Linked DNA regions of Homo sapiens. The protein of the gene in region 1 interacts with the protein of each later gene in a biochemical or structural test. Each region holds a gene or a part of one and is shown in the gene's direction. Other genes may lie near its edges.

Region 1 (4,914 bases):
CCACAGAGTTTCATTATTTGTTCTTCCTGAAAAAAAAAAAAAAAAAAAAAAGGAAAGAAAAACGTAGATTGTCAGAGGCAAGGGTCACCGGAATGTAGGATGAGAGGGGAGTCATCTCTTGATTGGCACAGCCTCCTTCTTGTTGAGCTGAATTATTGAGAAAATTAACTAGCCAGCTCCCCTACTCCTTGGGGATTTTGAACGTGCCATTAACAGGGAGCCAGAGTCTTGTCAAAGGATTGGACCTCAAGTTTTAAGGCTGAATGTCCTGTCCCTTGAAACTATTCTATAAGGGCTAGGCTCTGCAGCCTGCAAAGCACACGTTCCTATGTCAGAAACCTGAGCAGAGCCTGCTTGTTTGCAGTGGAGGTTCCACTGGGGGTTGGATCACATCATACTTAGGTAAACACTGGAAAGAGGCGGTAGGTGGCTCAGCTTGATTTTGCAATGCGCTAAGTTAACCAAAAAAAAAAAAAAAAAAAAAAGCCCTACTAAAACCACCCACCCCAAAATCCTCCCTGCGATCCTGGTTTTGTTTTTCAGATTTCACAGATACCCATAACAACTTGTTAAGATCTTGGCCCCCTGACAAGTTCTTCTGTTGTGCTTTGAGGCCTGACAGCCTGTCTCCAGGGAGCCCTGGCCTGGGAGAGGTGAGGCAGGATTTTATAGGCGCGGACCCTCCAGCCCCAGCCTGGTCCGGGTTTCTCAATGAGAAACGATTTTCTCTGCCTCTCCCAGGTTACAGTCAGAGGCCCTGGCCCCAAGAATGGTATTTCTGGTCAGTAACGTTTTCCAGCTGTGTGGCGAGTTGCATTCCAGCATCCTGCAGCAGAGAGTGTGTTTCCCCCATTGCCTTGTGTTCTCCTTGAATTAACTTGGCTCGCCCTTCCCCTTTTCCGCAGATGGCCTCGCCTCCTCCCGGGTCCGCCTATACTTCTTCATCTCCAACGAAGGCAACCAGAACCTGTTTGTGGTCCAGGCCAGCCTGTGGCTTTACCTGAAACTCCTGCCCTACGTCCTGGAGAAGGGCAGCCGGCGGAAGGTGCGGGTCAAAGTGTACTTCCAGGAGCAGGGCCACGGTGACAGGTGGAACATGGTGGAGAAGAGGGTGGACCTCAAGCGCAGCGGCTGGCATACCTTCCCACTCACGGAGGCCATCCAGGCCTTGTTTGAGCGGGGCGAGCGGCGACTCAACCTAGACGTGCAGTGTGACAGCTGCCAGGAGCTGGCCGTGGTGCCGGTGTTCGTGGACCCAGGCGAAGAGTCGCACCGGCCCTTTGTGGTGGTGCAGGCTCGGCTGGGCGACAGCAGGCACCGCATTCGCAAGCGAGGCCTGGAGTGCGATGGCCGGACCAACCTCTGTTGCAGGCAACAGTTCTTCATTGACTTCCGCCTCATCGGCTGGAACGACTGGATCATAGCACCCACCGGCTACTACGGGAACTACTGTGAGGGCAGCTGCCCAGCCTACCTGGCAGGGGTCCCCGGCTCTGCCTCCTCCTTCCACACGGCTGTGGTGAACCAGTACCGCATGCGGGGTCTGAACCCCGGCACGGTGAACTCCTGCTGCATTCCCACCAAGCTGAGCACCATGTCCATGCTGTACTTCGATGATGAGTACAACATCGTCAAGCGGGACGTGCCCAACATGATTGTGGAGGAGTGCGGCTGCGCCTGACAGTGCAAGGCAGGGGCACGGTGGTGGGGCACGGAGGGCAGTCCCGGGTGGGCTTCTTCCAGCCCCCGCGGGAACGGGGGTACACGGTGGGCTGAGTACAGTCATTCTGTTGGGCTGTGGAGATAGTGCCAGGGTGCGGCCTGAGATATTTTTCTACAGCTTCATAGAGCAACCAGTCAAAACCAGAGCGAGAACCCTCAACTGACATGAAATACTTTAAAATGCACACGTAGCCACGCACAGCCAGACGCATCCTGCCACCCACACAGCAGCCTCCAGGATACCAGCAAATGGATGCGGTGACAAATGGCAGCTTAGCTACAAATGCCTGTCAGTCGGAGAGAATGGGGTGAGCAGCCACCATTCCCACCAGCTGGCCCGGCCACTCTGAATTGCGCCTTCCGAGCACACATAAAAGCACAAAGACAGAGACGCAGAGAGAGAGAGAGAGCCACGGAGAGGAAAAGCAGATGCAGGGGTGGGGAGCGCAGCTCGGCGGAGGCTGCGTGTGCCCCGTGGCTTTTACCAGGCCTGCTCTGCCTGGCTCGATGTCTGCTTCTTCCCCAGCCTGGGATCCTTCGTGCTTCAAGGCCTGGGGAGCCTGTCCTTCCATGCCCTTGTCGAGGGAAAGAGACCCAGAAAGGACACAACCCGTCAGAGACCTGGGAGCAGGGGCAATGACCGTTTGACTGTTTGTGGCTTGGGCCTCTGACATGACTTATGTGTGTGTGTGTTTTTGGGGTGGGGAGGGAGGGAGAGAAGAGGGGGCTAAATTTGATGCTTTAACTGATCTCCAACAGTTGACAGGTCATCCTTGCCAGTTGTATAACTGAAAAAGGACTTTTCTACCAGGTATGACCTTTTAAGTGAAAATCTGAATTGTTCTAAATGGAAAGAAAAAAAGTTGCAATCTGTGCCCTTCATTGGGGACATTCCTCTAGGACTGGTTTGGGGACGGGTGGGAATGACCCCTAGGCAAGGGGATGAGACCGCAGGAGGAAATGGCGGGGAGGAGGCATTCTTGAACTGCTGAGGATGGGGGGTGTCCCCTCAGCGGAGGCCAAGGGAGGGGAGCAGCCTAGTTGGTCTTGGAGAGATGGGGAAGGCTTTCAGCTGATTTGCAGAAGTTGCCCATGTGGGCCCCAGCCATCAGGGCTGGCCGTGGACGTGGCCCCTGCCCACTCACCTGCCCGCCTGCCCGCCCGCCCGCATAGCACTTGCAGACCTGCCTGAACGCACATGACATAGCACTTGCCGATCTGCGTGTGTCCAGAAGTGGCCCTTGGCCGAGCGCCGAACTCGCTCGCCCTCTAGATGTCCAAGTGCCACGTGAACTATGCAATTTAAAGGGTTGACCCACACTAGACGAAACTGGACTCGTACGACTCTTTTTATATTTTTTATACTTGAAATGAAATCCTTTGCTTCTTTTTTAAGCGAATGATTGCTTTTAATGTTTGCACTGATTTAGTTGCATGATTAGTCAGAAACTGCCATTTGAAAAAAAGTTATTTTTATAGCAGCAAAAAAAAAAAAAAAAGAATACAGTTAAATGTATTATACATAATTTTGGAACCAAAGAGGCCAACAGATCAGTTTTAATTTTATTAGACGGTGAGGCCATCTGAGATGAGGTGGACGTTCTGAGCAGTCCCTTGAGTGGCCTGCCAACGTTTCAGGGTATGAATGGATTTTGTTTATTCGGTTTGATGTGTCTTTTCCATCCTTACACACCCAGAAGGTAGAGTAAAAATGACTATGATAGAATGCAGGTGTGTATCCTTAAATCCTCATCTTTATGTTTATTTAATAAAGCTCCCCTTAGATTCTGTTTCATAATAATTTAAAACCAAACAATTTTCCCATAGACTTGCTGTTAAAGTATTGTACGTTTGTGTACAGTTTAAGAAAATAAAAGATTGAGTGCCACGGGCCTCCTGCCTTGCGTGATGTCTGGGGCAGGGAGGCCTGGGCTGGAGGTGGGCAGCTGGGAGGAAGGCCAGTCCAGGTGTCCAGGTTGGATGCCAGCAGCTTCCACGGCCTGCTCCTGGCATCTCTGCGTCCTTGCCATGAGATGTATGTCGGGCAGAGATTCCAGGAAAAATGGCTGAAGATCAAAATGAAGGACAATTAGCAAATTCATGAATTACACATTTGTTTATCCTGCTAGTCCCAAGATTGATTATGTTTCACCAAGGCCACATCCATTACCATTTGCAAGTGCTGGGTAAGCCCCCGTCCCCAGGTGGAAATGTAAAACCCTGAAGGCTGAAGTCCAGCTAACCTCTGCTCACCTCTATTTGGAGGTGACTGGGACCTAGAAGTGGCTTGGTATCTTGGGATAGAAGGGTAAACAGAGTCAGGCTGTGAGTGTACGAAGGAGCCCTTCCTGAGGGGGTTTTCCCGGTGGAGAGTGGTGGTAGGGGCGGTGTAGTAATAATGGCCCACTGCGCAGGTGTAACTGGGATACCCGCCGAGTCCTGCTGTTACCATGCAGCATCGCATCTTTGTGGAAAGTGGCTTTGTCTGCATTTCCCAGAGTTTGAAAATCTGAGGCTTAGAGAGTTCAGAGCCTGCCTGAGGTCAGACATCCAGGACAGGGACCCTGGTGTTTGAGCCCACCCGTTTCCTTGGAGGACTGCAGCCCTGTGCCCTTGCCTTTGTCTGAGGCCCTGCAGGGCTGCTGGGGCTCCGCCCTGGGGTTTGGGTAGCATGTGGTCTTCCCAGAGCACATGGCACTTTAGAGAGCATGTAACCTCATCAAGGTAGTGGGAAACCGAGGGAGGCCCAGACAGCTAGAGGGGTATAGCTCAATCAGCACAGCCAGCTGGTGGCAGGAGGCAGCCTTCTAGCCTTTTCTTTTTCCATTCTTTGCCCAACCAAGGGAGCTACTGCCCTGCCAGGCTTTCAGCCCGAGGGGAAGACTGGTCATCTGTGAAGTTGTGAGACAGTATTACTGTAATTCACAGGGGCAAAGAAGAAAGTGTCATAAAGACAGGTCTGGCCTGTGCATTTCAGGCAGTGAGTCACGACGTCTCTGCCCTCTGCTCTGCGGGGGGCTGGGCCTAGCTGCTGGTGGCACTAGGCCCTCAGCCCAGCCCTGCCTCCCCGCTGCCCTGGGACTTTTTTCAGGTAGCGGCCAGGAGGTGCGATGTGAGCCACTGAGTTGCTTCTGCTGTTTGGACATTGAGCACCTACCAAAGCCCTTCTGGACTGAGCATCCCAGGATGGCC
Region 2 (5,246 bases), about 28 Mb from region 1:
TGATGTGGATCTTTGGCTGATCACAGCATTTCATGAAAAGGTAAAACTACTTAACGTTTTACTTTAGTAAAGTCTGAGTTGGCCTGCCTACCTAATGCTGGCTATAAATCCCTCAGAGTTATTTTTCGAGACATCTTATAGTTGATTAATATTTAACCTGAAAATAAAAATCATTCTTGAATAAAAATGTTTTAAAAGGTAGTTTATTTTAATAAAAGAGCAAAGATGGCAACTTTTTAACCTAAAACTCTACTCATATAAACCACCCTTTTGTTCCTTATTTCTTGTGCTGTAATTACTCTTACAAACATTTATTTTAGTGTAGGTAATGCTTAGTAATTTTCATTTACCATTTACAATTCATTTTGATTACGTGAACCATTTTTTTAAGTTTTAATCAGTCTTGCTTGTGACAAAACCAGAGTCAGGAAATTTATCTGATCTTTGATCTGTCACTAACTTGCAGGGTAATTATCACCAAAATGTAATTGCTAGTTTTCCTCAATTTTTCTACTTTTAGAGTCAGTGTGAAAGTACCATTAATGAAGTAGGAAATTATGTTTTTGGTAATTGGTTTCATCATTGTGAAATGTAAGTGGTTCTTTTACTTCTCTTATCTTGACCTAAAGGACAACAATAATCTAGAGGAATATTCTACATATTAGTTGTTATTTTATGTTGTTATTTTGTGTTCTGCTAGTCCCATGATATAACAACTCTATAGTCAGGATATTTTAACTTTTAAAATATTTTCTAGAACCTTAGATTTTCAACTAGTCTTTAAAAAAAAAAAAAAACAAACTTGTCTTATAGATTGGTGGAAGTTGACTATTCTTGTAACAAAAGTTTAAAGCTCTGGTATTTCCTTCTGGTCAAATGTTTATTAATGTGAAATGGAAGGAAATTTGAACCATTTGAACCATTCCAGAAAGATTGTTTCTTGGATATTATTTTTCCCTGAAAGGGAAACTCACAACCTCTTATAGGTAAAAAGAAAAGTCTCCTTATACATATGGCCTTTGTCAAGAACATAAGTTTCTTTTTTTCCCTCTTTTTTTAGGGTTCACTATCAGACTTTCTTAAGGCTAATGTGGTCTCTTGGAATGAACTGTGTCATATTGCAGAAACCATGGCTAGAGGATTGGCATATTTACATGAGGATATACCTGGCCTAAAAGATGGCCACAAACCTGCCATATCTCACAGGTAGACTAAATTTATATTGTTTTCCCAGATAATTGAGTATATATTTACTAAACTTTTAAGCCCCTGGGTAAATTTTAATTTTTCCTTTGTTATGCAATCATGCTTTACAAGACAGTCAGTTTTCATTTGTTTTTTAAAATTAGCTTTGAGATTGGCCAGGAAGTATTTTGGATAATGTATATGTTAACATTATTGGTAAAGTTTAATGATCTACTTCATCTCATTTCTGAAAGCATGATTGAAAATAAACTATATTTTCTCGATCTCAAAGGAAAAAGACATTTGTTTTACCTCAAAACATGATTTATCAATAGGGATTATTATCCAAGGGCATGTAATGAAGGAGAGACTTTGAATGTCTTCCTTGCTTGTTTTTTGAATGACCTTATCTGTACCCTGAGCCAAGTCTTAAAGGGAGGCATCACTTAAAACAGTTGTCCAGTGAAGAAATACTACTTAGACCCAACAGTTGTCATGCCCGCAAAAGGAAAAATGATTGTGTCTTAAACATGGAATTCAGTTTGCCATGTATTTAATTTTCTTGAACGTGGGATTCAATTTGTTGTCTTGTGTTCCATTTAAAGATGGTTGTTTGAAAAGTAGGCATTAACTGATTCACAGAACAGATACTTAGCTGAGTGCCACCAGGCGATGTTTTAGGTTGCTGGGAGGCATTATTGTAAGTCAGCCTCTAATTTAGGTTCTGATTTTGCAAACTTTAAATGACGTCTACCTCAGAAATAACTCTTCTCACTTTCTTACATGCAGTCTATTGGCCTCGTCTTCGATTTTCCCTTGCCCTACCTGGTCACATAGGGAATTAATCCTTAAGGACCCCCAAAGTTATTAAGGGCCTGAAAGTCTTTTGAAACTAAGATCGATTAGCTTTTATAGCATTTGGGAGTGTCTGCTTGTGCTTTCAGTATCCCATTATTGGTCTATATGTCTGCACATAAATTTAACCACTAGTCATTGGCATAGATGTATTTAACTAGGGTATAGTAATCTCTAGGATGAGCCAGTTGAGACAGGTGTGTAGAAGAGGATATCTTACTGCCTTAAAACTGTTACCCTTTTCAGAACACCAGGATCTAGCTAGAGCAGTGTATGTTTATGGTAAAAAGTTTCTGTTATTCATTCCATAAGATGCTTTTCTACAACCAGGTGGAAGAATATAAGAACCTCTATAATAAGGGATTATTCTAAAATGTAGGTCTCTACCAATAAGCAGAAGGCCCCAATTCAGCTATTTTTTAAAAGTTTCTTCATTTTGGTTTAAAATTTCTGTTTCTATGGGAGTTTGCAAATCAGAACTCTGAGATATTAACAGTAGTTTTATGATTGGTAGGTGGGTGACATAGATAACATATCTTTTTGGTATGGCAGATTTTTATATAACTGCTTTATAGGTAGGATTCCTTCTTATTGTCCATGTTATGAATAGGGGTTTGTCACCGTGCTCTTGTGTTTAAGGCTGCATGGGGCTCTGAGCTTTGTTTGTCTCACTTTCTCTGCATTTCATAATTTTAAGTAACTATTTTTTCATAGTGTACATATTCCCCCTTTTCTGCTTTCAATAAAAAATTTAAAAAGGTAACTAGTTTAAACTTAATTTGAATACTCTTTTTATTTGCAAGGGACATCAAAAGTAAAAATGTGCTGTTGAAAAACAACCTGACAGCTTGCATTGCTGACTTTGGGTTGGCCTTAAAATTTGAGGCTGGCAAGTCTGCAGGCGATACCCATGGACAGGTAAGGATGATGATTATAAAATGTAAGAAAAAATAAACTTGTTCCATATTTTCTTAGAATGGCATGTCAGGACTGAATTAGTCTAAAATTGTTGTGGTGTTTAAATCAGCATCTAATAGAGTTATCAAAGTTTCTGAGGAAGACATTTTCATATGATGGTAGAGGACTCAGGTGGTTTAGATCAAGCACTTCGTAAAGCAACCCTTAGACACACGTCATAGGATTCTTTTTGAAAAATTGATCAAAGAATAATCCACCACCTTTTAACAGACCTCATTCTTAGGGAATTCTTCGTATGAACTCCGTAGTTTTAGTCTGTTAGTTCTTTCACCATCTTAAGAAGAGTGGAAGAATAATTAGTCACTGTCCTTACTACAGTGTATTAAGATTTCCTGTCCATTTTCCCATGCAATAATAGTTTATTGCTTCTTGTTGTTTATTGCTTCATTAATTTCTTTAATCAACTTGATGGCTTTTCTCCAAATTCTCTCCAGAGTTCAGAGCACTTGTAAACCCCTGAATTAGGTAACTCTTCACACCTCTGTATATATCCATATGCACAGAAATCTTAGTAATGGGAACCTCTAGGAAGGCCAAAAGGGAAAAGAACATTATCCATACAGTTTATTCTCAGAAACTTTGAGGCTGGAAAAGATGTTTTCATTCCTGCAAGATCACCTTTTATTTTTATTTATTTATTTATTTTTGAGACAGAGTCTCGCTCTGTCACCCAGGCTGGAGTGCAGTGGCATGATCTTGGCTCACTGCAGCCTCTGCCTTCCAAGTTCAAGTGATTCTCCTGGCTCAGCTTCCTGAGTAGCTGGGATTACACACATGCACCACCATGCCCAGCCTAATGTTTGTATTTTTAATGGAGATGGGGTTTCACCAAGTTGGCCAGGCTTGTATCGAGCTCCTGACCTCAAGTGATCCTCCCACCTCGGCCTCCCAAAGTGCTGGGATTATAGGCGTGAGCCACCACGCCCAGCCAAGATCACCTTTTAATCAGGGAAACCAGTTCAACCTAAAAGGTGACATTTTCTACAAAGCTAAATGGTTCAGGCCTTCGACATTATCATTTCTTCATCTTTCATATCATGTAAATTATTTGGCCAACTAATTCTTAGGTTTCTTTTCCCCAGCATATCCTATTGGTTCCTGAGGACACGTTTTTAATGTCATGGCACCACCAATTTTGGCAGTATTGACTAACTATTTAAGAATGTAGTTTGGGGTAATGGTCAGTAGCCATATAGCTCTAGAAAAGTTGACTGCAAATGTGTATGGGAATGGAGGCAATTTTGTGGAGAATACTACCAAGATTGTGTAGGAAGCCTGAGGACAAACTTCTAAGCTAATTGAATGATAGACTATCATAAGACTAAATTCTGGGAACATATTCTTAATTTGGTACCTCATAAGCCCTCCCTCATTTTTTGAGAAAAAAAATTTCTGACTCATTCATGTCATATTTTTAACTCCTTCACAACTGGGTTTTATGATTAGTTAAAAATTATTGGCTTACAGTAATGACTCCTTGACTTTAGATTTCATGGACCAGAAAATTTCAGAAATATTTGGAGGGACTTGCATGTTATTGCACATTTTATATAGTACAAAGAACACATATAAAAGAGGGAACATTTTATGTCAACATGGTAAATAAACCATAATCTTACAATAAAAGAGGTAGGTACCTTGGATGGCATACATTTACCTGTAAGAGAAAAGTAGGCTTTAGGGAAACATTCACTGATAGCACAATTAAAATAATTATTCTGAGTAGTAAATTTTTTAAAAGTAGAGCCACTTTTCCCTTTAATGTGTTCTCCTTGAACTTTAGTCTTAGTGATCTGTCTTTATTCTTAAAAAAAATCTTTACATGTATATTTGCATAAATTGCCCAACTTTTAGTCTAGAGTAGAGATTATAGCCACCTAAGGATGGAGCGTTATGGACGTACCAATATCTAGACTACTCTCTAGTTCGAATACATCGCAAGTATGTTGTGATGTACCCAGCTATCTCACAAATATTTTTAAGCATTCATATATGAATGTTGTCAAGCACCAACCAAAGCTAGCTGTACTAGCTTAGTAACCATAGTTACAGTACTAAGAAATACCAAATTGTTGGGGACAGTTATAAATAAAGGACTCCAAGACAGAAGAATTTATGAATAAACAAATACATAGATTTTGTACAGATAGAACTTTTTAACATCAGTCTGTCCTTTACTTAGCTAATTCTTTTTATAACATTTTATTAGTTTTTTTAATACAGAGAAA

The links.
Region 2: the proteins of INHBB (region 1) and ACVR2A form a complex in vitro, tested with the Homo sapiens proteins (one study listed by BioGRID).

Annotation. Positions count from the first base shown.
Region 1 is NC_000002.12:120,348,194-120,353,107, forward strand, and holds the end of INHBB (inhibin beta B chain preproprotein), read left to right. Parts: intron 1-905; coding exon 906-1,681; 3' UTR 1,682-3,610; downstream 3,611-4,914. UniProt on the Homo sapiens protein: Inhibins and activins inhibit and activate, respectively, the secretion of follitropin by the pituitary gland.
Region 2 is NC_000002.12:147,917,387-147,922,632, forward strand, and holds part of ACVR2A (activin receptor type-2A isoform 1 precursor), read left to right. Parts: coding exon 1-40; intron 41-1,060; coding exon 1,061-1,206; intron 1,207-2,843; coding exon 2,844-2,958; intron 2,959-5,246. UniProt on the Homo sapiens protein: On ligand binding, forms a receptor complex consisting of two type II and two type I transmembrane serine/threonine kinases.